Homo sapiens: one gene and its partners. The protein of the gene in region 1 interacts with the protein of each later gene in a pairwise test. Each region holds a gene or a part of one and is shown in the gene's direction. Other genes may lie near its edges.

Region 1 (7,025 bases):
TTTGTGGGAAGAGGAGCATTGTGCTTGGAGCCTGGAAGCAGCAGAATAGTTTGAAAGGGCCCCATATTCCAATTAAGGAGATAATGCTATTTCTTCCTCTCTCCCTTACTTGCTACAACAAAGTCCTTTGAGCCCCCTTCATGCCTCCCTTAAGCCCTCCTTCAACCTTGGTAAACAGACCGGTAGCAAACCACATGACCTGTGACTTTCCTCCCTTTGGGCTGCACCTGGTTTGTGCCCAGATGTATTTATCCTCTGAGAAGGAATCCGATCAGTTAGCAAGTGGCAGAATAGTCTCTCCTTCCCTTTGGTTCTGGCTCACGGCTCCTGGCATAGCCACTGGTAGGGCCCTTGGGGCCCTAACTGAGAGCTAGCCCCTGGGGAGGAGAGCCTGTATGCTGCCCATCCTAGCTTTCTAAAGTTCTCTCTGGGTTTGGCTGCAAGGTTCTTGAGGGAATTTCTGGTTTTAGTTCCACCTCTGAGCTTTCACACGTGTTATCCCAACCCCAGTAACATTCTCCATTCTCATCACTGAGTCATTACCTGTGTATCCTTTGAATCAAGGCTTATCTGTTATTTTCCAGGTCCCTTTCTTCATTCCTGGTACTACTTTGTAGCCTTCAACACAATCATATTAAATTTTTGTGTGTCTTTAAGATTTGTCTGTCTCACTAAACTGAAGGCTTCAGTGGGGCAAGCTTGTCTTCAGCTGTATCCCAGGCTCTGGAGTATAGTATGCATGCCATGAATAGTTAATATTATTATTCTTACCACTCTTAGTTGAGCTCCTGGACCTGCAGATGCCTTCTGGATGCTTTGGTCCAGGGTTCTTCATGAACCGCCCCTCTAATTGGCCATTTTTAATTTTGTTTTAAGATGCCATGGACAATATTACCAGGCAGAACCAATTCTACGATACCCAAGTCATCAAACAAGAAAACGAGTCAGGCTACGAGAGGAGACCACTGGAAATGGAGCAGCAGCAGGCCTATCGTCCAGGTAGGAAAATACACATGGTTCATCTCTTTGGATGGAAACAATCTACATGGAGCCTTTACCCCCTGCTTAGAGCGGGTCTTCCCAGAGAAACTGTGCATCTTTTTTCTTGGGCAGTTCATCTAAACATTGTCACTCTGGCAAGAATTGTTTAAAGGAAAGATCTCAGTCCTATTTCCAAGTGTTGGGAGAGGGGAGGTTCCATGGTATCTGTAAAAAAGTGATGTTAGTATCAGCCGGGTGTGGTGGCTCCCTCCTGTAATCCCAGCACTTTGGGAGGCCGAGGCAGGTGGATCACCTGAGGTCTGGAGTTCGAGACCAGCCTGGCCAATATGGTGAAACCCGTCTCTACTAAAAATACAAAAATTAGCCAGGCATGGTGGCAGGCACCTGTAATCCCAGCTACTTGGGAGGCTGAGGCAGGAGAATCACTTGAACCCAGGAGGCGGAGGTTGCAGTGAGCCGAGATCGCGTCATTGCACTTCACTCAGTCTGGGCAACAAGAGTGAAACTGCATCTCAAAAAAAAAAAGATGTTAGTATAAGCACCCTGGAGAGTTGAGACCCCTAGACTAATACTTGAATCTTATTTAGAATCTTAGAATGGGGGAGCCAGAAAGAGCCTTCTAAGTCTAATCTGGTATTTCTCATGTTCTGAAGATTATTGTTTCAGGGGATATTATTAGGGGATTCTCAGAAAAGGGTTCCTTAGCCAAATGTGTCTGGAAACTGTAGCATGTGCTATATCGTCTCTTGGAAATTCACTGTGCTTGTTAGAACATTAAAGGCTCTGAGAAGTCCAGAATTTAAAAAAAAAAAAAGAAAGTGTGTGTCAGGCCTCAGGCCAGGTGCGCTGGCTCATACCTATAATTCCAACACTTTGGGAGGCCAAGGTAGTAGGATCATTTGAGACCAGGAGTTCCAGACCAGACTGGGCAACATAGTGAGACCCCTTCTCTACAAAAAATTTAAAAATTAGCCAGGCATGGCTATGACTGACTACATGCACACACCTATAGTTAAAGCTACTCAGGAGACAAAGGTAGGAGGATCACTTGAGCCCAGGAGTTTGAGGCTGCTGTGAGCTATGATTACACTACTACACTCCAGCCTGGGTGACAGTGCAAGACCCTGTCACGAAAAAAAAAAAAAAAAAAAAAAACCTAAAATTAAAAGTAGGTTAGAACACAGTGGCTCATGCTTGTAATCCTAGCGCTTTAGGAGGCCAAGTCAGGAGGATCACTTGAGCCTAGGAATCCAAGACTAGCCTGGCAACATAGTGAGACCCCTGTTGTCTTTAGAAAAAATTAAAAATTGCCTGAGCATGGTGACATGCTTGTAGTCCCAGCTACTCAGAAGACTGAGTCAGGAGGATCACTTGAGCCCAGGAGTTCAAGGCTGCAGTAAGCTATGATCGTGCACGGCACTGCAGCCTGGGCGACAGGAAGACCTTGCCTTAAAAATAAAAACAGGCCGAGTGCGATGGCTGTTACATGCCTGTAATCCCAACACTTTGGGAGGCTGAGGTGGGAGGATTGCTTGAGTCCAGGAGTTCAAGACCAGCCTGGGCAACATAACCCTGTCTCTATAAAAAATAAAAATATTACCTGAGCATGGTTGCACAATCCTATAGCCCCAGCTACTCTTTTTTTTTTTTTGAGACGAAGTCTCGCTCTTGTTCCCCAGGCTGGAGGGCGATGGCGCGATCTCAGCTCACTGCAACCTCCGCCTCTCGGGTTCAAGCGATTCTCCTGCCTCAGCCTCCCAAGTAGCTGAGATTTCAGGCGCCTGCCACCACACCTGGCTAATTTTTGTATTTTCAGTAGTGACGGGGTTTTACCATGTTGGCCAGGCTGGTCTCAAACTCTTGACCTCAGGTGATCCGCCCGCCTCAGCCTCCCAAAGTTCTGGGGTTACAGGCGTGAGCCACTGAACCCGGCCAAGTCCCACCTACTCTGGACCCTGAGGTGGGAGGATCACTTGAGCTAGGAAGTTGAGGCTCCATGAGCCATGATGGCAGCACTGCATTCCAGCCTGGGCAACAGTAAGCCTCTGTCTCCAAAAAAATTTTTTTTTTAATTAAATTTAAAAACCTTGTGTCTTCTTGGGCTGGTGTTGCTGAAAATATTTTTTTTAATAAAAAAATAGACAAAAAACCTTGTGTTGTATCGTTTAAACTTAGGATTTCCCAATCATGTTAAGTATATGTCTTTACAGAACAAAGTTCCCCATGATGCCAACTCTCCCTTCCCTTTTTTTTTTTTTTTTTTTTGAGATGGAGTCTCGCTCTGTTGCCCAGGCTGGAGTACAATGGTGTGATCTTGGCTCACTGCAACCTCTGCCTCCCAGGTTCAAGTGATTCTCCTGCCTCAGCCTCCTAAGTAGTTGGGACTACGGGCGTGCCACCACACCCAGCTAATTTTTTGTGTGTTTTTAGTAGATGTGGGGTTTCACCATGTTGGCCAGGATGGTCTCAATCTCCTGACCTCATGATCTGCCTGCCTCGGCCTCCCAGAGTGCTGGGATTACAGGTGTAAGCCACTGCGCCTGGCCTCTCCTCCCCATTTTATAGATTGAGGAGTTGGCTTGTCCGATGGCAGAGCTGGGGCTACAACCTAGCATACTTGCTCCCAGGCTAGTCCTCTTGGTTAATAAGCAGCATTCCTTATCATTTGTGCCTTACTATTTGGAAAGCAGGGTCCCACTATTGAGAACTGATGGAGCCCGGACTGACCCCCAGTTTTGTGCTGCTTTTACTGTGTTGTGGCCTCCCAGTGCCTTTTCTTAGTGTATCTGGTTGATTTTGTCTAACGCCATTCTGGTTCATCCACAAAGTTAAATCCCCAGACATTTCTTGTGGGTGGCTCAGAACTTTACTGAATGTAGGTTAAACCGCAGATTTGTGTCAGGCTCTGTGAGACTTGTAGGATCATTCAGCCACAGGAGAATATTTTCTGTGCCGTTATCCACAGACATTCATCAGGAGCCCTGTGTGAGCCCAACCTATTGCTGGGAACCAGGGAAGCTCTCTTCAGGATGGCTGAGCACCATCCCAGCCCTAGAGAACCAGGAGACTTTTCTGAGAGATGTGGTCCACATGCCGAAGCTGGGGAGTGATCCAAAATGGTCTGGGGTTGAATGCAGAAATGAGTAGATGTGAATGAGCTTCAGCATCAGGGATTAATGCTGTGGGAGAAATGAAGGTAGCCTACATCTGTGGTTTGCTCTTGGTTAGGCACTGATTCCTGGAGTCTGCCTGAGACTAGGACTTACCCGTGGTCCACAGCACGGTATCCCATCCTGACTTTCTGTTAATGGTATGACTTAAAGAGGTTATTGCACCTATGGGATGGCTTAACCGGAGTGATTCTGGCCTCTTTTGGTAGGGTAACTAAAGCCCGTAGAGTTAGCTGCAGGACCACAGTACCCTGTTGAATTCATCCTCTCCCCCTCCCTTGCCAGACTGAAGAAGCTTTGTAAGAACTAAGGCAGAGAGGTTCTTTGGGAAGAGAAATTGGAGAATTTAGGGTCATGGTATCTCAGATCCTAACCCTGTTCTCCAGTATGGCCTTCTTGGCTGGCTCAGCAGGCTTCTGTTGAACTCAGCAAGCTGCCTGTGCCCAGCCCTTCATCACTGTAGTGAGGATCCTGCTCACATCTCTCAAGGGAAAAGGGACCAGAAAAGTGATAGCTGGGGAGCTTGCGAGTGTCTTGACCATCTGAATTTGTCTTGACAATAGAAATGAAGACAGAGATGAAGCAAGGAGCACCCACCAGCTTCCTCCCGCCTGAAGCTTCTCAACTCAAGCCAGACAGGCAGCAATTCCAGAGTCGAAAGAGGCCTTATGAAGAAAACCGGGGACGGGGGTACTTTGAGCACCGAGAGGATAGGAGGTGGGTGTATGAGGCAGCAGTCACCCTTGCTCTGGTAGGTTTCTATATCCATAGCCTCGTGCTTGCTGGGGACATTTGCACTAACCTAGAGGGGCTGAGTAAAGATTCCCTCTGCTTTCACACTCTTCCTGTCCCTTCCCGTACTTGCTACCAGATTCAGCTTTCCTAAACTTTTGGTCCTTCCCCCAGTTCCTCCCTTCTTACCTGCAGGGTAACTTCTAAATATCTTAGACTTTCACGCGTGAGATGCCAGCCTGCCTGTTCTGTCCTTTGCCTTACTGCCCCTGCAGTCAGCTGCTTGATACCCGTAATGAAAGAAATATCTGTTTCCTAACACTACTCCCAAATACACATCCTCTTCCCATTCATCCACTCATTCAGTCAGTTCTCACAGTGCTGTCACGAAGTGCCCACTCTTGGGCTGGACACTAGCAACATACAGATGGACAGTGGGTTTTGCCTTCTGTTGTTCCAGTGTGGGGACTCAGACACATACACTAGTAAGCCACAACCTCTGAGGTGAGTAGTCAGGATGCAGGTGAGTTTCAGGAGTTCAGAAGAGGGAGCAGCCTCTGCTTTGGTCATTTCCCTTCCCTAACAAGCCCTTCCCTCCTTTCCCTCCAGACCAAGTCCTTCCCTTCCCTCCTTCCTTCCTTCAGTTCCTGTCTGAAGCCTTTTGCAATTATGAAAACTAGGAATGGCCACTGTACTCATCTGGACTAGTCATCTGACATTCTATTTCCTATCTGGCGGAGTCCACCTTCTAACTAGCTTGTTACTGTCTGAGACAGGGCCTGGATCTCACAGGCTATGATTTAAGTTAGGACATGGATCCCACCTCATATGGGGTTCTTCCACTGCCTCCCACAGAGCAGAAGCCTGGAAGCTACTTACTGATGGAGAGCAAAGGAAGAACACTCGCTCTGATCCTGGGCTGGCAGGGAAAGTTTCCTAGAATGGACTTAACATGTGATGAGCACAGCTCATCCATGTTAGCCCTGGCCTGGCGAGGCCAGAGGGGCCCTCCACCAGAGGGAAGCCTGCTGCTGGGAGAGTCAGCAGCCAAATGGGCATGGGCTCCCCATCTGTGCATGCAGTGCACTGCGACCACCCAGACTGTCCAGGCAGGACCCTGAGTGTTAGATTCTACCTTTCTACCCTTCTTCCTCGTTCCTGTACAGCAGAAACCAACAGTGTTAAGTCCCTTTTTTAGCGTTTTGGTAGGAAAATGAATATCGTTTATAATTTAGGACACTGAAAAAAATGGGTCATCTCAAATTCTTACAGATGTAGGATTTTAAGAAGCCTGGTACATGGATAGATAGTAATTATTGGGATTTATATAGGCTCTTGCACATTCCCCTTCCTGGCCAGCACCCTTTTGGGATACCACAGCCTCCAAACAGTAACAGAGATCAGTGTGGAAGTGGTTGTCAACATGCAGAGGGTATGGATCAGAATCTTTGGGTGTAAAAAAAGAGTGAAAAAATTCCCTAAATGATTCTGATGCCCCCCTTCAGCAGAGCATGCCTTCTTCAATCCCTGTCTCCACCGTAGGAGTTGACGGTCATTGCTCTCCTTGCAAGGATGTAGGGTTTCAGAGTTCTTTTGCCCACCTCTGTGGAAGGAAATGGAGATTCAGGAAGCAGTCTGGAGGCCACTCATAGATTACAGCAGAACATTCATTTTCTTTCCTTTGTGCTCATCCATTGTTCTTGTATGACTTAACCCCTGTTTCTAATACAGGGGCCGCTCTCCTCAGCCTCCTGCTGAAGAGGATGAAGATGACTTTGATGATACCCTTGTTGCTATTGACACCTGTAAGTCTTTGGAGTGTGCATCTAATTCTGCCTTACAGTCAGTATGGGGAAATTGTGGTCTTGACCTTCACCAGAATCCCTGCTGGGCACCGTCCAAAGACATTGTTAGTCCACATGTGAGACACGGCTTAGCTCTGGAGCAAGAGTACTGGTTTGGAGGCAAAAGACCTACTCCCAACTCTAGCAGTGGGACCCTGGGCAAGTCATTCTACTTCTCTGAGCTTCCCTTCAGGAAGGAGTAAATCTGCTGTACTAACCTCAGAGGATTTTCAGGGAGACTCCTCAGTGGATATAGGAGCAATCTGGAAAACCCTGA
Region 2 (7,025 bases), on another chromosome or scaffold:
ATGGTGAACACTGATTTTGAAATTTTTCTTTCTTCCTTCATTTCTTTTCTTTTTTTAGGAAAATGTCTGATGAATTTTCGGTAAGTTGATCAGTTTATCTGTGATAAGTTTTTCATCTCTTAAGAAAAACAACATGGTCCTAACTGGGCTACGTAAATCTTTTCACTTAAAAGAGATGCTTTAACCAGGCATGGTGGTGTGCACCTGTAGTCCTAGCTACTTGGGAGGATCCCTTGACCCCAAGAGTTTCAGGCTGCAGTGAGCCATGATTGTGCCATTGCACTCCTGCCTGGGTGACAGAGTGAGACTCTGTCTATAAATAAATAAAAGAGATGCTTTTTGTGATTCTTGGCTTTGGGGGTAGTAAAGAGATTTTGATAGGTGATTTGCCTTAGTTTACTGAGATAATAGCATGTTTGGAAATGTTTCCTGTATTTATGAAAATATGTATTTCTTTAAATGAAAATTTAAGATGTTACTTCTGTTGTTCTCTTTTACCCTGATAGTATTAATAGCCAACATTTATTAGAAATTATTATATACCAGGCACTCTGTGAAAGTGTACTACATGAAATATCATATTTAAGCCTCAAGTTAACCCTAAAACAGTTTTGAAACTGAAGAGGCTCTATCTCAGAGTATGTAGCTCCTTTGAGGTTAAGCCAGGATTCAAATCCATATCTTGACTGTTAGTTCTATCTTCTTAATTACTGTATTTTGTTGTATTAATACAGCAGAGAAATGAAGCACAATATGATTAGTTGTATTTAGAAAACGAGTTTCTCTGAAGAATTTGCACTGTAAAGTTGATACGCAAAGTAGCATCTCAAGGTTTATGTTAAATAGAGTATTTTTTAAATGACTAGCTTAGCTTTTGAAGATATTCTTGAGGTTTATAATCCCTGCCCCTATAGGTTACTATTCTCTGTGGGTTTATAATGGTGTTCGATGTAACTTTTCCCTAGATAGGAAAGACGTATCTGTTTTGTGTTCCAGTTGGCAGATGCACTACCTGAACACTCCCCTGCCAAAACCTCTGCTGTGAGCAATACAAAACCTGGCCAACCTCCTCAAGGCTGGCCAGGCTCCAACCCTTGGAATAATCCGAGTGCTCCATCTTCAGTGCCATCTGGACTCCCACCAAGTGCAACACCCTCCACTGTGCCTTTTGGACCAGCACCAACAGGAATGTATCCCTCCGTGCCTCCCACCGGACCACCTCCAGGACCCCCAGCACCCTTTCCTCCTTCCGGACCATCATGTCCCCCACCTGGTGGTCCTTATCCAGCCCCAACTGTGCCGGGCCCTGGCCCCACAGGGCCATATCCTACACCAAATATGCCCTTTCCAGAGCTACCCAGACCATATGGTGCACCCACAGATCCAGCTGCAGCTGGTCCTTTAGGTCCATGGGGATCCATGTCTTCTGGACCTTGGGCGCCAGGAATGGGAGGGCAGTATCCTACCCCTAATATGCCATATCCATCTCCAGGCCCATATCCCGCTCCTCCTCCTCCCCAAGCCCCTGGGGCAGCACCACCTGTTCCATGGGGCACCGTTCCACCAGGAGCCTGGGGACCACCAGCACCATATCCTGCCCCTACAGGATCGTATCCCACACCAGGACTCTATCCTACTCCCAGTAATCCTTTCCAAGTGCCTTCAGGACCTTCTGGTGCTCCACCAATGCCTGGTGGCCCCCATGTGAGTGTTCAATTTGTTATTTAAAGTGTACTAATTGTACATAGCACAACTGACATTGTTTCTCCCCAGTTTTGGATGGAAGATTAAGAAGGCTTTTAAGTTTTTAAAAGAGGGTGTGTGTATATTAAATAAGTAAATTTCAAACCTTCAGGTAAAGCATTTAAAAGGATGAAAGCACTGTTTTAAGTATTCCTTGTGCTAAAAAGAAGAATTTTCCAAAGATCCCCAAAGACTTTGTAATGTAGTAAGCAGTGTCCTCAATAGCATCCTTTAGGTAAACTCTGAGATTCATTTCATTGGGCTTTTTGTTTTATTATTATTATTTCTCAGTATTGTTTTATAGCATCACACCAAAGTACAGTTCAGTAAAAGCAGTCTCTACCTGTCTAGCTTGATAGAGGTAGATTTTTAGAGAATCCAAGGCAATGAGTAGGTAATGTTCATCTTTCAAGCAGTTCTCGAGCTCAAGATTACACCCCTATTCTTTATTGTCAGTTACATGTAATGCTTTATGCTTTACTGTCAGACAACCCAGTGTGGGGTTAACATCTTAGTTGAGGAGCCTGCCTTGGTCATATAACCAAATGGAAAAGTACCCCACTTCCCCTGTGAGGTAAGCCAAACGAGTATCCAAACGCAGAGTAAAGATTTTCCTTAGGAAAAAAAATCTGTTAACTCTTTTTTTTTTTTTTTTTTTTTTTTTTTTTTGAGACAGTCTTGCTCTGTCACCCAGGCAAGAGTGCAGTCTCTCGGCTCGCTGCAATCTCTACCTCTCAGGTTCAAGCGATTCTCCTGAGTAGCTGGGATTACAGGCGTGTGCCACCACACCGGCTCATTTTTGTATTTTTAGTAGAGATGGAGTTTCACCATGTTGGCCAGGCTGGTCTTGAACTCCTGACCTCAAGTGATCCGCCTGCTTCAGCCTCCCAAAGTGCTGGGATTACAGGCCTGAGCCACCATGCCCAGCCAGGAAAAAAAAAAAATCTGTTAACTCTTAGTACGAAAATAACTAGCCAGATCTCTGATTAGATTAGTCAAACATCCAATCCAGCTATAAAGGAAAAGAAATCTTTAAAGTACCCCTAAAACTTCCTCCTTGCATTAGTGTAATTTCTTTCTTGCTATATATATTATCTAAAAATATTTGTTTTGCAAAGTGTATGCCAGAGTAAATGATGTGACTTGCTGTTTGGATTTATTAAGCAATAAATTTACTTTAAGCCACAGTAAGGAGTTAATAAACTCCATTTGCAAAATCTAGAAGTTGACTTTTTCTTTTTTCTATTGCAGTCTTACCATTAAGTTAACAATGGACGAAGAGATGACGCTTTGCTTTTTGAAGTACATGTATATGCACATGAATGCATATATAAAAATTGCTGGTTTCACTATTAGAGGGCATTCATGAAAGAACAACTCTTGCACCTCTCAGAGAAGATAACTGCCTCTTGTACTTGGATGCGTAGTACATCATATGTATACAATCAGATAAAAGCATAGAAGTAAATCATTCGGATGTGATTTTTATTTGGTTTTCATGGAAAGTTAAAGTGATAAAGTATATTGAATAGTTCTTTGACAGAATTTGTTTAAACTATGAAACTACACACTTAAAAATCTAAGATGTGGATTATTGTTAGAATCTGCAACTTCATTGGCAAATTATTTCAAGTATTTTTCTATAATCACTTTCCCCTTCTAAATAAATAAACTTCGAGAATAACCCATCATAATCCAAACAAATGATGCCTCAACATTTTGAGCTGCTCTGTCGGACAAATAAACCTGGTCCTCTTGAGGTTATATTTTGGATATACATTTTTAAACTGTCAGTAATTATTGTCAGATGTGGAGTTCAATAGCCAGCCAGTGTTCATTTTTATCCTTGAGCTTTTAGTAAAAACTTCCTGGTTTTATTTTTAGTCATTGGGTCATACAGCACTAAAGTCTGCTATTTATGGAAACTAACTTTTTTGTTTTTAATCCAGGCCAACATGTATGTAAATTAAATTTTTAGATAATTGATTATCTCTTTGTACTACTTGAGATTTGATTATGAGATGTGCATATTGCTTTGGGAAGAGCTCGAGGAAGGAAATAATTCTCTCCTTTGTTTTGAACCTCAAACTAGATAAACCCTAGGAATTGCTTAACTGCAACAAGTAATTTTCATTCCCACAAAAACCTGAGGCAGCTCTTTTGCCCAGAGCGTTCCCTGTAGCCACCCCCACCCCACTTGCCCTTGGTTCTTTAGAAGGAGCACACACATCCCTTGATTCCTCCCTGATGTGGTAAACTGGCACACTCCAGGGGTCTAAAACATAAAACAGTTGTGTTTAGGGAACCTTAAGTCATGCAGACATGACTGTTCTCTTTGTACAAGTGTGAATCAAAATATGTATCTCTTTTTCAGAGTCTGGTTAAGCTATGTCATTGTCTACTGCATAGTTTCCTGAGTCTGTTTGTAAAGTGCTTATGGCTAACAGTTCAGTTCTGTATTTGTTGACAGGTAAATAAGTGGAGTTGAGTGCCATCTTTGAAAAAATTACCCTCTAGCTCTAACACTGAAAATAATAATAAATTGTAGATCTCTGCAACTAAGTTTAAAGCAGTGTGACTGTGTTGCTTAAATATCAAGTATTGTTTATAACCACCAAAAAAAAAAAGCCCTGGTAGTTTTTTGGCACCTTATGTTTAAATCAGATTCTTAGATTTGGAGTAGACCTGACCTTGTTATTTATTAGATAACATTTTGAATGTATCCATTGGATTTCTAAAATGTATTGTGAATTTCTCAGACAAACAGGATTTATGCTGGAGCTCTGTTTTGCTTAGAAATAAAATATTTAGTAGTTTATTTCTGCTCTAATTAAAATGTCAAGAATGCCAAATGCTGCCAGTTTTTTGGTTTGATAGCTACCTCCTTCTAAGAAAGCAAAATGGTTACCTTTGAGAGGAACATTCAGTGTTTAATCATCCCTTATGTTAACTAGATGATAGATTCAAGCTTTTAGAAATGAGAAAGTAGAAACTAATTTGTTAAGATATTTTCAGACTGCGGAATGTTGTTAGCTTTTTCTTTCACTTCTCTTCAAGGACAGGTGTTAGCTGTCTACAATACTGTTGAACTCTGTTGTCAAAGTAGCCCCCTTAGTCTACAAGGCAGGTAGCCTTGGCTTGAATTATCAATATCAAAATGTCAGTTAACCATGGAGGGATAAAGTAATGTGAAAAGTGAGATGGCTGCAAAGATAGCTCTCCTTACAGTTATTTTGGCTGTCCTACATTGGGATAAGCTGACAAATTAGCAGTATTTAGTTTAACACTGGAGCAAATATAATTTGAGTAGGAAGAAGAGATAGCAGGTTTGGGAATCTATAATTATGAAGTCCATTGATTTTGGGAGAAAATCTGTTGCTAAAGGATTTGAAGGGCCATGAACACAATTTGGGATTATTACTCCCTATAAGTATAATAATTTTGCTAGTGACCCATACTGTCCAGTGTGCCCTAAATCATACTGCTATTGTACTCCCTTTGTTTTCAAGGACTTTGCAACTGGTATTTGGGGGAGATTTTTTTTTTTTTTTGAGACGGAGTCTCGCTCTGTCGCCCATGCTGGAGTGCAGTGGTGCTATCTTGGTTCACTGCAAGCTCCATCTCCCAGGTTCACACCATTCTCCTGCCTCAGCCTCCCAAGCAGCTGGGACTACAGGTGCCCGCCACCATGCCCGGCTAATTTTTTTTTTTTTTTTTTTTTAGTAGAGATGGGGTTTCACTGTGTTAGCCAGGATGGTCTCGATCTCCTGACCTCGTGATCTGCCCGCCTTGGCTTCCCAAAGTGCTGGGATTACAGGCGTGAGCCACCACGTCCGGCCGATTTTTTTTTTTTTTTTTAATGTAAGAATGGAGATAAAAGGGATAATATAATTTGCTTTTATATTGTTATTTTTGTAAAGCATCTTTTCTTCAATTCTTGTTGGCATTCTGGGCCAAAATATTTCAGGTTGGTTCGGTGTGGAGTTAAGAAAAGCAGGCGTTTTAGTGGAGAAATGGGGAACAGCATCAAGAAAGGCTTTTTTCCTTTTTTCTTTTTTTTTTGGAGACAGAGTCTTGCCCTGTCACCCAGGCTGGAGTGCAATGGCGTGATCTTGGCTCGCTGCAACCTCTGCCTCCAGGTTCAAACGATTCTTCTGCCTCAGCCTCCCAAGTAGCTGGGATTACAGGTGCCCGCCACCACACCCATTTTTGTATTTTTAGTAGAGACGGGGGTTTCACCATGTTGGCCAGGGTGGTCTGAAACTCCTGACCTCGTGATCCGCCTGCCTCAGCCTCCCAAAGTGCTGAGATTACAGGCGTGAGCCACCATGCGTGACCTTTTTTTCTTTTTAAAAGGGAACAATGTTGCTTTCAAAACAAGACATGCTAGGCTGAAACTGATTTATGGAAAAGACTGCTTGTTAGCAAGTATATTTGGTCTTGAGGGGGATACAGATTATAGAATATGCTGACATTTGGGCTTCAGAGGAAGAATTTTCAAATCTAATGGAAATAGTTGAGGTGTTCAGGAATGCTGTTTCTTGGAGTTGGAAGCTTAGGTTTTGAAATGTTGAAACCAAAAAGACAAAAATTAAAACATAGACCTTAGGTCGTCATTCACACCCGGTTCTCAAGAATCAAGTGGAGCACTTCAAAGACCTTGGCTTGTCTGTCCCATCCTGCCACTTTCTCATCTTTTCATGCTTTTGAAGACACCATTTACAGCTCTGACTCAGCCCTATTTTGTGTAAAGTAATATATTGATTATTCAGAAATAGACAATACATTTTTTAATTACCCAAGGACTGACTGTTTTGTGCATTTTACTGTTGGTTGTCTTCAGTAGAGAATAGTAATAGGGCAGAGAAAAGTATATATTTTGCCTCAGTCAGTCCCACCACCACAATGGACTATTGGGATATTTTCTAAAAAACCAATCAATTTGCCCATGATTACCTCACAAATAATTAGTGCTACCTGGGGTACTCTCAAATATACAGCTTTTGAAACTGTAGATGAAAAAAGCTCTACTCAGAGTTTTTGTCAAGACTGTGCCTGGGTTGAATATCAGTCAATTGCCTACACTTCTAAACAATAAGTGCCAATGTCTCAATTTTCTCACCCTGAATGATAGAAGCTAGCTTTATCAAATGCCAAGGTTAGAAAGCCTGGAAATAAAACTTAAGCACAGACATTCAAGTTTTTGAAAAGCATAAGCCTAAATTCAGATAAATCACACTGATATATTGTACTATGCATAGAAAGTTGTAGGTGGCGTTCAG
Region 3 (7,431 bases), on another chromosome or scaffold:
CAGCTAATTTTTTTGTATTTTTAGTGGAGACGGGGTTTCACCATGTTGGCCAGGCTGGTCTCCAACTCCTGATCTCAGGTGATCCACCTGCCTTGGCCTCCCAAAGTGCTGGGATTACAGGTGTGAGCCACTGCACCCGGGCTGTTTAAGTAAACTAAAATGGAGACCGGGCCTGAAGAATCCCTAAGCAGACAAAACAAGTTAGGTCTCGTAAGTGACTTCAGCCTTGCTTAAATTGAAAACATAAGTGAAACTTAACTTGAGCCATTATTTTGTTTGTTTGTTTTTCAGTAGAGACAAGGTCTTGCTATGTTGCCCAGGCTGGTCTCAAAGACTAGTCATCTGCCCTGCCTCGGCCTCACACCCAAAGTGCTGGGATTACAGGCATGAGTCATTTCTTTTTTTTCTTTTTTGAGACAGAGTCTTCTCTGTTGCCCAGGCTGGAGTGCAATGGCGCAATCTTGGCTCACTGCAACTTCTGCCTACCGGGTTCAAGCAATTCTCCCACCTCACCCTCCCGAGTAGCTGGGATTACAGGCACTTGCCATCATGCCCAGCTAATTTTTGTATTTTTGTAAAGATGGGGTTTCACTATGTTGACCAGGCTGGTCTTGAACTCCTGACCTCAGGTGATCTGCCCACCTCAGCCTCCCACCCAAAGTGCTGGGATTATAGGCGTGAGCCACCATGCCTGGCTGAGTTGTTTCTGATAAATGCTTCCATTAGACAGAGATAAATTTTAATCTACCCAATCATAAGTAACCAACTATCATGATTATATAACTACTGACTTTCCAACAGGATAAGCCAAAGAAAGCAACTCTATAACTGTAACCAATCAAATAATTTCTTTATTGTGCTTCTACATTTTCCCAATAAAAACTTGCACTTGATGTTTTGTCTCTGGAATACTAACGCTCTTTCAGTCAGGTGTTCCCCAATTCATAAATTGCTTTTCACTCAAATAAACCCTTTAAAATTTTGTTGTGAGTCAGATGTTTCTTTAACGCATGGTTGCAAAACGTGCTGTTAGTAAGGAACATGACTGAGATCTACATTCAGGTCCTAGTGCAGTTTCTTTTGCTGTCACCAGGGCCATCTTGCTGGCTTGCCACAGGTTATGTGATAATGACTGGGCATCATTCATGGGAAACTGCACTGCGTAAGCAGGCCTGGCTAGGCCCACAGTAGGCCCCGGGCACATTTTCAGCTGCGAAGCGGAGGACTAGCAACCGGTGAGGTAGAAGGAGAACCAAGAGATGGTGGGAGAATGGGAACTGAGCTGAGAGAGCTTCCGGAAGGTTGCGGTGGCCTAGGGCGATCCACGTCATTGAGAAACGGCGTTAGGCTGATTTCACGGGGCAGATGACATGGAAGTGCTGCTGAGGAAGACGCTGAGCTCCGAGGTGAAAAGGGATGAGGACGCCTAAGAAGACACGAGCGCAATACCTAATACAATTTCCTGAAATTGTTTCATGTCACACGTTAAAATAATATGAAACACGTTAAATAATAAAATGGTATGAAGGTTTTGTCTGAACTACAGTGATTTGTCTTCAGATTTTGAAATATAACAGACTTTATTTTATTTATTTTATTTTTTGAGACAGAGTCTCGCTCTGTCGCCCAGGCTGGAGTGCAGTGGCGCGATCTCGGCTCACTGAAACCTCCGCCTCCCGCGTTCACGCCATTCTCCTGCCTCAGCCTCCCGAGTAGCTGGGACTACAGGTGCCCGCCACCGCGCCCGGCTAATTTTTTTGTATTCTTAGTAGAGATGGGGTTTCACCGTGTTAGCCAGGATGGTCTCGATCTCCTGACCTCGTGATCCGCCCGTCTCGGCCTCCCACAGTGCTGGGATTACAGGCTTGAGCCACCGCGCCCGGCCCTGAAATTGTTTAATGTCACACGTTAAAATAATATGAAACACGTTAAAATAATAAAATGATATGAACGTTTTATTTTATCTGCACTACAGTGATTTGTCTTCAGATTTTGAAATATAAAAGAGTTTATTTATTTTATTTTTTAAGACAGAGTCTCGCTCTGTCGCCCAGGCTGGAGTGTGGCGGTGCGATCTCGGCTCACTGAAACCTCCGCCTCCCGGGTTCAAGCGATTCTCCTGCCTCAGCCTTCTGAGTGGCTAGTATTACAGGTGTCCGGCACCATGCCCCACTAATTTTTTTTTTTTTTTAAAGTAGAGCAGGGGTTTCACCATGTTGGCCAGGCTGGTCTTGAACGCCTGACCTCAGGTGATCTGCCTGCCTCGGCCTCCCAAAGTGCTGAGATTACAGGTGTGAGCCACCACGCCCGGCCAAAAGCCTTTATTTTTTGCCTTTTCTGCTTTTAACCATCCTCCTTTTTGGGGGGTTGGGGGGACCTAGTTATTAACAGAAAAAAACCCTTTGCTGGTGTCTTTTTTTCTTTTTTTTGAGATGGAGTCTGGCTCTGTCACCCAGGCTGGAGTGCAGTGGCGCGATCTCGGCTCACTGCAACTCCCCGGGTTCAAGCGATTCTCCTGCCTCAGCCTCTGGAGTAGCTGGGATTACAGGCGCCCGCCACCACGCCCGGCTAATTTTTCTATTTTCGGTAAAGACAGGGTTTCTCCCTGTCGGCCAGGCTGGTCTCGAACTGCTGACCTCAGGCGATCCAACACCTCGGCCTCCCACCTCGAGGCGATCCGACACCTCGGCCCAGGTCGCACTTTTTTGCCCGTTTTGATCCCATCCTCCAACTGCGGCCACAGCCGGAAATGTAGAGAAATTCGCGCTCCTGGGGCCGGCGGGGCTGGCGCTGGCTCACCCGCTCCCCGGGCCCTCCCAGTCGCCAGGTTTGCGCTCGGAGCCCAGGGGCTGCGGGTTCACAGTTCGCCCGCGAGTCGCTGTCAACCCTCCAGGCGCGGCCCGGGGGCGCTCGCGCGCGCTGCCAACGGAGCCATCCCTGACGCGTTCTCAGTCTACGGCAGAAAACGCCAGTCGGCGCCGGACCGTGACTCCAGGGTTTCGCGGAAATAAATTTTAATCCAGTTTTGAAGCCACCACTTGGAGTTCCAGGGCAGTTGCACCCCGGGGGTGCGCTGCCGCCACCGCTTCCCGCCCCCTACTCAGTCTCTAATATTTATGGGTGTCATCTCCATCCTCTGAAGGTTTCTGGACCCCAAACTTAACCAAGAGGCAGAGCCTGAGACTGGGACAGAGAATAAGGGCACGGTCTAGAAAGCCTTCCCTCAACTTGAGGTCCACCTTAAGGCATGGGGCCCACCCTCACCCTCTCCCTGTCATCTAATAGTCCCAGGGGGAGCTGGGAGGTGAGTTACCTGAGGCTCAGTAGGGTTCAGGCTGGGTGCCAGGGACACTCCTAGGCCATCTCCTTGCTGCTTGAGTAAGGGAGAAATCCCCAGGCCTGCTGTGTCCCAGAGGAAGGAAAAATACACACGGTACTTTCCAGGGAGCCCTGCCTTTGTCCCAGGGACTCCAGGCTCTTTTTCTTGTCTGAGCCTCACCTGGCACCTGGCCCGAGACACTCCTGAGATGGGATTAAGCAAGGAGCAGGTGGAGGAGCCCAGGCTTCTCCCTCAGGAAGCAAGTGCTCACATCCAACAGAAGTACCTACATGCCGGCCTGAGCCAGGGCTAGGAGGTACCAGCCAGGATGTGGTCTCGAGGGCGAGTCCTCAGCTCAGATAAGGGAAGGCTGAGGACTGAGATGAAGACACCCAGAGTCTGGCTATTAGAGCACCTGGGGCCAGAGGGGGGTGGTTTCTAAGGGATCCAGGTGCTGGCTGATGCGGTAACTGGAGTAGGGGGCAGGCTGGGCTCAGGGTTCTCCAGGGGCACAGTGAGAGTCTCATCTGGGCAGTCAAGACACTCTCGATGGGCGCAGGGGGTCCAGGAGATCCTAGAAGGTCTAGGTGGGCTGAAATAAGCCTGGCCATAAAGAGAGAAATATGTTTGGATTTTATTTATCCCATTAATTTTTTTTTTCTCTTGACTTGATAACCCTATCCCATGTCTGGTAAACCCAGAGTAAGGAGTCCAAAAGCTGCTGGAGGAGGAGCTATGGGAGCCTCAGTCTCCTCTCTATGCCCCCTCCCTGTGCCCCAGTACAAACCTCCACAGCACCCCTGCAATGATAATGCTCACTGCCAGGACCCGTGTCCAGGGTCTCCCTCTTCAGCCTGAGAGACCACCGTCAGGCACAGCCTGCACCCTCCCGTGCACGGCCCCCACCCCTCCCCTGCTGGCCCACAGTGGAATCAGCCTCTCCGGTTTCTGGTGATTTCATCAGGGCCACATCACATTGCTAGAGCTAGAGATAACATCTCCCTGTGGGTAACCCTTCCCTGCCAAGCCCCCTGAAGCTGGGCCCAGGCTGAGAGGAGGGACTGTGGGGTGTGGAATAAATTTAGGGGTGTGAGGGTCTACCAGGCAGAAGCAGGTTGGCTGTGATGACAGCACAGAGCTCAGGAACGCTGCCTGAGGACCCTGGGGCCTACGAGGAGGAGAAGAGGGCAGGAGCTGGTGGGGTGCTTGCAGAGACCCTGGGCTCCTATCCTGCCATAAGCCTCGCTGTCTCCTGATATCTGCAGCCAGGCCCTACTGACACCCCCAGGCCTGAGTGCAAGCAGAGACCCCACCATTCCCAGGCCCTGGAGGACTGGTCCACCTTAACTGGGCAGCCCTTGGGGCAGGCGCTGGCCGGTGCCTCAGCCCAGGCCTCTGTGCTCTGCATGCACTGCCAGCCTGCCATCAGGCCTCTATTGCAGCCCTGAACCATGATCCAGGGCACCTTGGAGCCAGATGGTCCCCTCTGGGGCTGGGACTGGGACAGTGACAATGACTGGGATAGTGCTGTGCTGGCCCTCCTGGCGCTGGCTGTGGTGGCTGCCACAGCGCTGGCCTTACACTGGTTTGGCTCCGGGCACGATCAAGAGGCGGCAGAACCGGTGTCCACAGCCCTCGGGGCTCAACCTCATCAGGCAGGAGGAGCTGAGCTGGCCCTGCAACCGAAGTCTAAGGTCAGTGATGGCAGCGAGGGGCAGAGCCCAGGGCAGGGGAAACCAGAGCCCCCAGGACGCGGCCAGCAGAGCCCTGTCCCTGCTGCAGCGCCGGGCGGGGGCCTGGCCGCCATGGCCCGGCTTCCACTCAAGACGGCTGTCGAGGAGGCCCGCAGAGAGGCATTAGGACAGCAACGGGGCAGTGCCACCCCCGCGGCCCCCCGAGCGGAAGGAAAGGAGCCTCCCAGGCCAGGCACTGCCCTCCTGGGCAGGAGCGAAGCAGGGGGGATGTCCGCCCCCCTCCTGATCCACTTCACTCCTCGGAGCCCTGGCAGCGAAGCGGAGGCGGAGACAGGTGGTGTCAGGGCGTCCTCTCGCCAGGCCGCAGGCCCCGCGGGGCAACAGGACACTGGCCCCTGGCAGGCGGGCGCGGGGCCCTCGGGCTCGATGGGGAGAGGCCGGGGCCGGCGGCGGCGGATGGACGCTGGCTCGGGAGACAGAGCCCGCCGCCCCCGGAAACTGGACCCGCTCCGCCTGGGCGCCGCGGGGAGCGTGTGGGACGCGGTGGACGGGGCCGCCGCCCTGGACGCCCACGCGCGCGGCCTCCCCACAGGACCCCCACTCGCCCAGGAGCCCGCACTCCCGGCGCTGCCCGCTCCCCGCGCCCTGCAGCCTGGGTCTCAGACGGAAGGCTCTGGGGCCAAGGGTGGCTGGAGCAGGGAGGCCTCGGGGGTCCCTGCCCCCGGAGGAGGCTGGCCCTGGGTCAGCAGGGAGGTCCCGGGCACCCGGAGCTTTGGCCCAGCCCCAGACTCCACGCGCCCCTGGCTAGAGAGTCCGCCTCAAGGTCGCCCACTCTCGTCCCAAGGGCCGGGTGCCACAGGGGCCTACGATGCCGGCGAGGCCGGGGCTGACAGCTCCCGAGATAACAGTCCTGCCGCTGACCTGGGGCCCACCCGGCCCCCGGAGCAAGCAAAGCCGGCTGCAGCCGGCCACAGCCGCGCGCCCTCCCGGAGCCGTGAGCCTCGCCCGCGCTCCGCCTCCCCGCCCGCAGCTCCCGGCCCGGGGTTCCCACCTGAAGCCCTGACTCTCCCCTCTCCTTCAGACTTTTTGCCCCTGGAGGTTACCCAGGATCCTTCCGTGGGCGAAAATCTCAGAGCGGCGCCAGCCCCAAGTTCAGCCTCAGCCCAAGTCTTAACTTCAGCTCCAGCCTCAGTCCTAGCCCCAGCCCTGGCTTCATCCCCCAGCTCAGCACCAACCTCAGCCACCACCTCAACCTCATCCCCCACCTCAGCCCCAGCCCCAGCTCCAACCTCAGCTCCAACTTCAACCCCAGCCCCAGCCCCAAGTCCAGCTGCAGCCGCAACTCCAGCCCCAGCCCCAGTCCCAGTCCCAACCCTCACACCCCCATCCCCAGCCCTAACCCCAGTCCCAACCCCAGCCCTAAGCCCAGCTCCAACTCCAGCCCTAACCCCAGCCGCATCCCCAGCCCTAACCCCAGTCCCAACCCCAGCCCTAAGCCCAGCTCCAACTCCAGCCCCAACCCCAGCCGCATCCCCTGCCCCAGCCCCCACCTCAGCCCCAACCCCAACCCCAGCCGCATCCCCTGCCCCAGCTGACGGGTCAAAGCCTCAGGAGAGTGTGGCTCTCCCCAGGCGCTACCAGGAGGGGCAGGTCTCAGCCAGCTGGGGAAACCTTATTGCCATGGTTCTTAGAAGCCACCCCTTCCCCAGGCAAGACAGGCCCCAAGGGAGTGTCCCGAGGGCGGTTCCCGGGAGCCCCGTGGGTCCCAGCACTTCCACACACTCTGAGGACAGACACGGCCCCTCTTCTTCAGTGGGGACAGTCATAGGGACAGGTACAGGGGGCCTGGTTGAGGCTGGAGGTCAGCCACAGCCAAGAAGCTCCGAGACCAACGGATCGCCCAGCCCAGACCCTCCCCCAGGCCTAAGAGGAGAGGGAACCAGGGAGAAAAGTCTAGACCCGCTGCCCCAAGCCGCGATGCCCAGGGGCCCCGCACAGCCCCCCGCGCAGAGGCCGCCTGGCCCCGCGGCCTCCTCCTCTGCGAGGCGCTCACAGCCGGTACCCCAGCTACGGAAACGCAGCAGGTGCGAAATCGCCCCGAGCTCGGAGCAGGAGGTCAGGCCGGCCGCCTCGGGGGACCCTCAAGGGGAGGCGCCGGGGGAGGGGGGCAGCCCTGCCGGCCGCAGCGGGGCGCTCACGGAAAAGCAGGAGGAGGCCCGGAAGCTCATGGTGTTTCTGCAGAGGCCCGGGGGTTGGGGGGTGGTGGAGGGGCCCCGGAAGCCCAGCTCCCGGGCCCTGGAGCCCGCCACGGCGGCAGCCCTGCGGCGGCGGCTGGACCTGGGCAGTTGCCTGGACGTGCTGGCCTTTGCCCAGCAGCACGGAGAGCCCGGCCTGGCGCAGGAGACCTACGCGCTGATG
Region 4 (7,025 bases), on another chromosome or scaffold:
TCCTTGGAGGTGACTTCTCTAATTCCCTCTCCCCCACTGAGCTCTGGTTCTCTGCTCTTCGGGAGAACCACATTAGTTGACTCTTACTAGGTCCTAGAAGTTTTACTCCATTTTCTAATTACATGCTCAGGACTACTCCAGAAGGGCTTGCTATTAGCCCCATGTTTCAGATGAGAAAATGGAGGTTGGGAGAAGTCATGTGTCCAGGGACACAATTGGGACTTGGGACCCAGTCCCAACTGGGTCCCAAGTTGGACCGGGACACCCCTCCCCTGCCAGGGCCCTTGCCCTGTCTTAGTTGCCCTGAGCTACGGTTCTTGTGGAGGGCAACAGGGTGGGCAGAGGGAGAACTGAGCTCAGCCAAGACCGCCCTGGCTTATTTTACAGCAAATCCCAGACCAATAAGGTCTTTATTAATAAATAAATCCGCAGTATTTCTAAGAACTTTTAAAACCTAACCATGATACTGCTGTCATGCCTAAAAATACATTCCAAAATATCAAGTATCCAGGGTTTAAGTGTTTCTGTATTAAATTTTTTTTTTTTTCCGAGACGGAATCTTGCTCTTGTCACCCAGGCTGGAGTGCAGTGGCACAATCTCAGCTCACTGCAAACTCCATCTCCCGGGTTAATGCCATTCTCCTGCCTCAGCCTCCCGAGTTGCTGGGACTACAGGCGGCCGCCACCATGCCCGGCTAATTTTTTGTATTTTTAGTAGAGGCGGGGTTTCATCATGTTAGCAGGGATGGTCTCGATCTCCTGACCTCGTGATCCGCCGGCCTCGGCCTCCCAAAGTGCTGGGATTACAGGCGTGAGCCACCGCGCCCGGCATGTATTAAATATTTTAAACAGCTGGTTGGTTTGAGTCAGGATCCAAAGTCACACCTTATATTTTGTAGATAACTTTTTAAATTCAGAGCAGCACTGTCCAATAGAAATATAATGTATGCTATAAATGTAATCTTATATTCTTTAGTGGTAAAAGGAAACATGATTCATTGTATTAATAATTTAACCTAATATATATCCACTACTATTTTGCATGTAATTTTAAAACACTTTTTCATTTCTCCATGATCTTGACTAAAATAATTAAAAACAAAATCCTGTGAACTTGTCAAAATCCAGTGTGAGTTTTACACTTACACATTTCAAGCGTGGTGAATGGATGCTGTGTAAGTGATCATCTAGAGGTTCCCCTTTCTTAAAAGGCTCCATCCCCCGTTATATTTGTCGGGCTGTCTTGCAGCATTCCTTCCCCACACTTCGCATTTTTCTGATTGTTTTTCCGTGGTGGTCTTTGAGTGTCTGTTCTTTATATTTCCTGTAAAGTGATAGTTACCTCTAGAGGTAGTTTTTGGTTTTGGTTTTATTTTTGTTTTTGAGACGGAGTTTTGGTTTTGTTGCCCAGGCTGGAGTGCAATGGTGTGATCTTGTCTCACTGCCTCCTGGGTTCAAGCAATTCTCTTGCCTCAGCCTCCTGAGTAACTGGGATTACAGGGGTATTTTTAGTAGAGACGGAGTATCAACTTGTTGGTCAGGCTGGTCTCAACCTCCTGACCTCAGGTGATCCACCCGCCTCAGCCTCCCAAAGTGCTGGGATTACTGGTGTGAGCCACCGCACCCAGTCTGGAGGTAGTTTTGATTCAGATGAGAGTTTTTGGAAAGAAAACTTACTTGAGGTGCTGTGCTCCAACCGGAGGCACATATTGGTTGGTATCTTCTCTTTTGTCATGTTACAGCAGCTATTAATGATCATTATGTAGATCCATTATTTTCTTAAATGGTTTTCAAATTAGTGATATTTTAATAATCGATTCCTTTTCATTTATTAGCAGGAATACTTTTTCATGTGATCGCTCTAAGATGTACTTTTGTTTTTGTTTTCCTTTTTTTTTTTTTTTATAGACGGATTCTCACTCTGTCACCCAGGCTGGAGTGCAGTGGCAGGATCCAGGCTCACTGCAGCCTCCGCCTCCTGGGTTCAGGCGATTCTCAGGCTCGTGAGCAGCTGGGATTACAGGTGTGCAGCACCACCACGCCCATCTAATAGTAGAGATGGTGGAGTGGCAGGGGGTGGGGGGTTTCACCATGTTGGCCAGGCTGGTCTCAAACTCCTGACCTCAAGTGATCCACCTGCCTTGGCCTCCCAAAGTGCTGGGATTACAGGCGTGAGTCACCCACCACGCCCAGCCCTCCACATTTTTTTTTTTCGAGAAAGGGTTTCACTTTGATGCCCACACTGGAGTGCCCTGGTGTGGACAGAGCTCACTGCAGCCTCAACCTCCTGGGCTCAGGCAATCCTGCCTCATCCCCCCAAGTAGCTGGGATTACAGGTGTGTGCCACATGCCCAGCTATTTTTTTTTGTATTTTTTGTAGAGAAGGGGTTTTGCCATGTCGCCCAGGGTGGTCTCCTGAGCTCAAGTGATCTGCCCACCTCGGCCTCCCAAAGTGCTGGGATTACAGGTGTGAGCCACTATATATGGCCTCAGTTCTTCCTTGACATAAATTCAGCTTAGCATTTCTCATAAAACATTAAAAAAGTACCTCTATACTTTGTCTCCATTGATACATCAGTATGAGAAATTGCAGTGATTGAGTTTGAAATGATCAACTACACTTGCATTCCTGAAATCCAACTTGGTCATAATATCGCTTTATATATTGCTGGATTAGGTTGACTGATACTTGGTTTGGACTTTTGCATCTGAGTTCTTGAGTGAAATTAGCCTGTGATACTTGATTAATTGTAAAACTCTTTTGGAAATGAAAAAATCAATTCCAAGTTCATTGTAGATGTAAGTGTAAAAATTTAGAGAAGAACATCAACGCTTTGTAAGTTCAGATAACTATATGGGCTGGGGCTAGGAAAAAGATCTCTTGAAAATGACACAGGCTGGGCGGGGTGGTTCACACCTTTAATCCCAGCAGGGCCAAGGCAGGCGGATTGCTTGAGGCCAGGAGTCCAAGACCAGCCTGGCCAATGTGGCGAAACCCCATCTCTACTAAAAATACAAAAATTTGCCAGGTGTGGTGGTGTGCATCTGTAATCCCAGGCTGAGGCAGGAGAATTGCTTGAACTCAGGAGGTGGAGGTTGCAGTGAACCGAGAGTGGAATGATGGTTTGAGCTCAGGAGTTCAAGATAAGCCTGGGCAAGATGGCAAGACCCTATCTTTTCAAAAACAGAATTTTTAATTAGCCAGGTATGATAGCGAACACTTGTAAAGACATAGAGGATGCAGTGAGTTGTGATTGCAGTACTGCATACCACCCTGAGCAAGAAAGCAAGACCCCGTTTAAAAAAAAAAAGCCATCATAATTAAGAAAAGGCATGACAGATTAAGACTCCTATTAGATTTATCCTAACGGTATGCCTCCTGTTAGACAAAATGCTTCACCTAATACAAATACAGATACTCTTACTTACTGTTATATCCCGATAAATCCATCATAAGTTATTTGATTAGAATAGTGCCATCTAATAGAATTATGATGTTTATGACAAATACATATCTTTTCTAATTTAAGTTGGTGTTAGATACCATATACGATCCTCTTAAAGTACATAGAATTCAGAAGTTAGTTTTCTTGTGATGTTTTTGTCTGGTTTGGTAACACGTTGTATTAGTATGCTAGGGCTGCCATGCAAAGTAATACAGACTAGTAACAAATTTTCTCACGGTTATGGAGGCTAGAAGTCTTAAGATGAGGGTGTTGATAGGGTTGGTTTCTTTTCAGGCAGGAGAAATAATGTGAATAGTAGGAATTCCAGAAGGAGAAAAAGACACAGATGGAGGCAGCAAGAGAAGCGATAAAGGATTAGAAGTGAATTTTCCTGGCTTAAGATCCCTGTAGTTCCCATTAGGATATTTTGAAAAGACACAGCACAGGCGTGTGTTGGTAAAACTCCTAAAGTATAGAGGAAACTGCTTTGGAAAAAGTATGTCCTCCAAATCTCTTATCTTCTCCCCCATTGTTTCTGTTTTGATGTTTATTCTACTTCGTTTTCCTTTCTTTGAATTCATTACTAACTTTTAAATTTAAAACTCAGTTTTAGTTCCAGAAAGTTTTTTTTTTTAAGTTTTGTAATGGAGTGGTATCTGAAGTTGCTCTTTTTTTCCTGTTAAAATCATTATGGTTTTTGTCTAGCACTTCTTGTTCCCTGAAACCTGAGGTGTGGTATGTTATTTCTGGGTGCCGGAGCCCCTCTTCTGTAAATTGTCATGTTCCTTTCCTCCTTCCATCTCTCTGTTCTGCACAATTCCCCCAAGGCAGAATGCAGTGGTCCCCTGGGCAGCACAGCTCAGGGCCAGCAGTCTCAGCTCAGGGCCTGCTGCTTGGAACCTGACTAAGGTGTCATGTTTCCATGGAGGCTTCAGGAAGAATTCCCATCCCAAGGAATGTACCTTCCTCAGGGGGCTGAGGATACCCCACAGGCCTCCTTTCTCTCCAGCTCCAGGGTTTGACTATGCACCTATTTAGGGGCTGCTTGCTCAAGGGAGAGAGGTACAGGAGGTGGTCTGGGAAAAACAAAATTGATCTTCCTATCAATTGTATTTTTGTTTAGCGGAATCTATACACACCCATTTCTTTGGATATTATTTCCAGTTACTCCAGCTAATCCAAATAATGATATTTGCCCTCAGTTAAGAACAGATTTTATTTTTAGGAACAGAAGTCTAGTAGCAGTTTTGCTTTTTATTAACGTTTTAAGGAACATTTACCTTAGATATCATGATTCTTGGGCATTTGCAAAATGCAGTCAATATCAAACAGCAATGGTTGCTTGTTTTATGATCGGTCAGAATTTGTCCCTTATATTAATTTCAGTACAAACAGTATAGATAAAATTTATCTAACATTACATTATACTACTCTTGATGCTTTTTAGTAACACAGCTTTTGAGAAATGAACGCTGAGGGAAGCAGTGTGTTATCCCCCCAGACTTAGCTACAGCAAGTAAGTGAAAGGACCTGATAGATGGTAATGGAAAACAGCTTTCCTGTTGCATGCAGATCAGGACAGATCCCCTTTGGTGGATATAAATGTAGTAATAATGGAGTAAACATTTAAAATGTTAATATATGCTCCATCTGCAGCTTCTCAGTCTTTTTTTTTTTTGAGACGGAGTCTCGCTCTATCGCCCAGGCTGGAGTGCAGTGGTGCGATCTGGGCTCCCTGCAAGTTCCGCCTCCCGGGTTCACACCATTCTCCTGCCTCAGCCTCCTGAGTAGCTGGGACTACAGGTGCCTGCCACCACGTTTGGCTAATTTTTGTATTTTTAGTAGAGACGAGGTTTCACCGTATTAGCCCTCCTGACCTCGTGATCCACCCGCCTCGGCCTCCCAAAGTGCTGGGATTACAGGCATGAGCCACTGTGCCTGGCCACTTCTCAGTCCTTAATAGCTTTTAGGATAGCTCTGTGTATTGAATTTGGCACGTTGTGTGAATTGGGTTAGAATTCTCACACTTCAGATACATGTGCCCCTGAAAAGTTAAGTACAAATGTGTGCGTTGGTGCATTTTTTTAAATGGAATTAGTGTCTTGTATCATAATTCTTGAGTTCATGACAGCAGGAAGTACTTAAGAGTGACTGAATAGGAATTTTATAAAATTGCTGGGTTGGAAGATACTTTTGAGGCCATTAAACCCAATTTTCAATATTTCCAACAGAAAAGGAAAACATCCATAACAAATATGGTCTATGATCTGCTCACATACTATATACCATGATGGGGAATTTTTGCCCCCAAGATGCATCTTGTGCTTCTCATGTGGTGAACAGACACGAGCAGCAGAAGCTGTGTCCTAAAATTTCTTCAATCTAAAGGATTCACCACGAAATAAGAATATGAATACAAAGCATCCAGCACCAAAATGTATCCCAGTAAAGGGCTTTGGTAAAAAATATAAATAATTTGAACAAGTGTCCAGAGGGGAGATAATGTACAGAAGGAAAAAAGAATAATGGGCTTTTAACTTCTTTTTTTTCCCTCAGTTTTTATCTTTTTCCTATATAGAGATGGGAGTCTCACTATACTGCGCAGGCTGGTCTCGAACTCTCTTGGGCTCAAGTGATCCTCCCACCTCGGCCTCCCAAAGTGCTGGAGTTACAGGCTTGAGCCACTGCTCCTGGCCAGCTTCTACTTTAAACCTCAGCTATTTATCAAGGAAAAAAGAATTTCCCTTCTTTCTACATGAAATTCATCACTCAGTGTTCCCACTCACCCATGCTCCTGTCTGTTTAAATGTCACTTCCTCAGAACCCCAATCTGAGCTAATGCCTATTTTCTGTTTTTCGTTCATTCTAAAATTTGTCATCATATATTTGTACATTTCTTGATTTCCTACTCCACTGTTACTGGACCCACCAAGGCAGGAACTGTGTCTCTTTACCACTACAGTTCCTGTATCTTTTAGGTGCGTAGTATTTCTTGGTGAGTCAGTCAGTCTCCAGACTCAGTCATTTTTCTCTACATTACACATTCTTTCACATTCTTCTCCCACCAGTCTTCCTAGACTTGTTTCATTCCTTCCCATCTTGTCTCCATGTATCTCTTCCCACCATTCATTTTCCAGATAGCATCTAGACTGTTGTGTTAAAAAGCAAAACTCCTTTCACACCACATTCCATTAAATGCCTTCCCACTGGCCTTTGAACACCAAACCAGGCCTTTAAGGCTATGTCATCTCCTACCATTGATCTCAGACCTAGCTGCAGTTGCACAATACAACCCCTGGCTCAAGTCTTCTGCACACATTGTTCCCTCACAGGCAGGAACCCTATGGTGACTGATCAATAATTAAAACTTGCCTTGGGCCAGGCACAGTGGCTTATACCTATAATCCTAGCACTTTGGGAGGCCAAGGTGGATCAGTTGAGCCCAGGAGTTACAGACCAGTCTGGGCATCATAGAGAGACCTTGCCTCTACTAAAAAATTAAAAAAAAAATTAGCCCGGCTTGGTGGCATGCACCTGTGGTCCCAGCTACGTTGGGGAGGCTAAAGGTGGGAGGATCAT

What was found.
Region 2: the proteins of HNRNPUL1 (region 1) and MAPK1IP1L interact in binary tests that used the Homo sapiens proteins (3 or more experiments, as listed by UniProt).
Region 3: the proteins of HNRNPUL1 (region 1) and KLHDC7B interact in binary tests that used the Homo sapiens proteins (3 or more experiments, as listed by UniProt).
Region 4: the proteins of HNRNPUL1 (region 1) and HNRNPF interact in a two-hybrid assay, tested with the Homo sapiens proteins (3 studies listed by BioGRID and IntAct).

What each region holds. Positions count from the first base shown.
Region 1 is NC_000019.10:41,267,347-41,274,371, forward strand, and holds part of HNRNPUL1 (heterogeneous nuclear ribonucleoprotein U-like protein 1), read left to right. Parts: intron 1-876; coding exon 877-999; intron 1,000-4,735; coding exon 4,736-4,889; intron 4,890-6,635; coding exon 6,636-6,709; intron 6,710-7,025.
Region 2 is NC_000014.9:55,061,622-55,068,646, forward strand, and holds part of MAPK1IP1L (MAPK-interacting and spindle-stabilizing protein-like), read left to right. Parts: intron 1-58; coding exon of another isoform or gene 59-62; coding exon 63-80; intron 81-996; coding exon 997-1,704; intron 1,705-2,994; coding exon 2,995-3,006; 3' UTR 3,007-7,025.
Region 3 is NC_000022.11:50,541,474-50,548,904, forward strand, and holds the start of KLHDC7B (kelch domain-containing protein 7B), read left to right. Parts: upstream 1-4,425; 5' UTR 4,426-4,770; coding exon 4,771-7,431.
Region 4 is NC_000010.11:43,399,181-43,406,205, reverse strand, and holds part of HNRNPF (heterogeneous nuclear ribonucleoprotein F), read left to right. Parts: intron 1-7,025.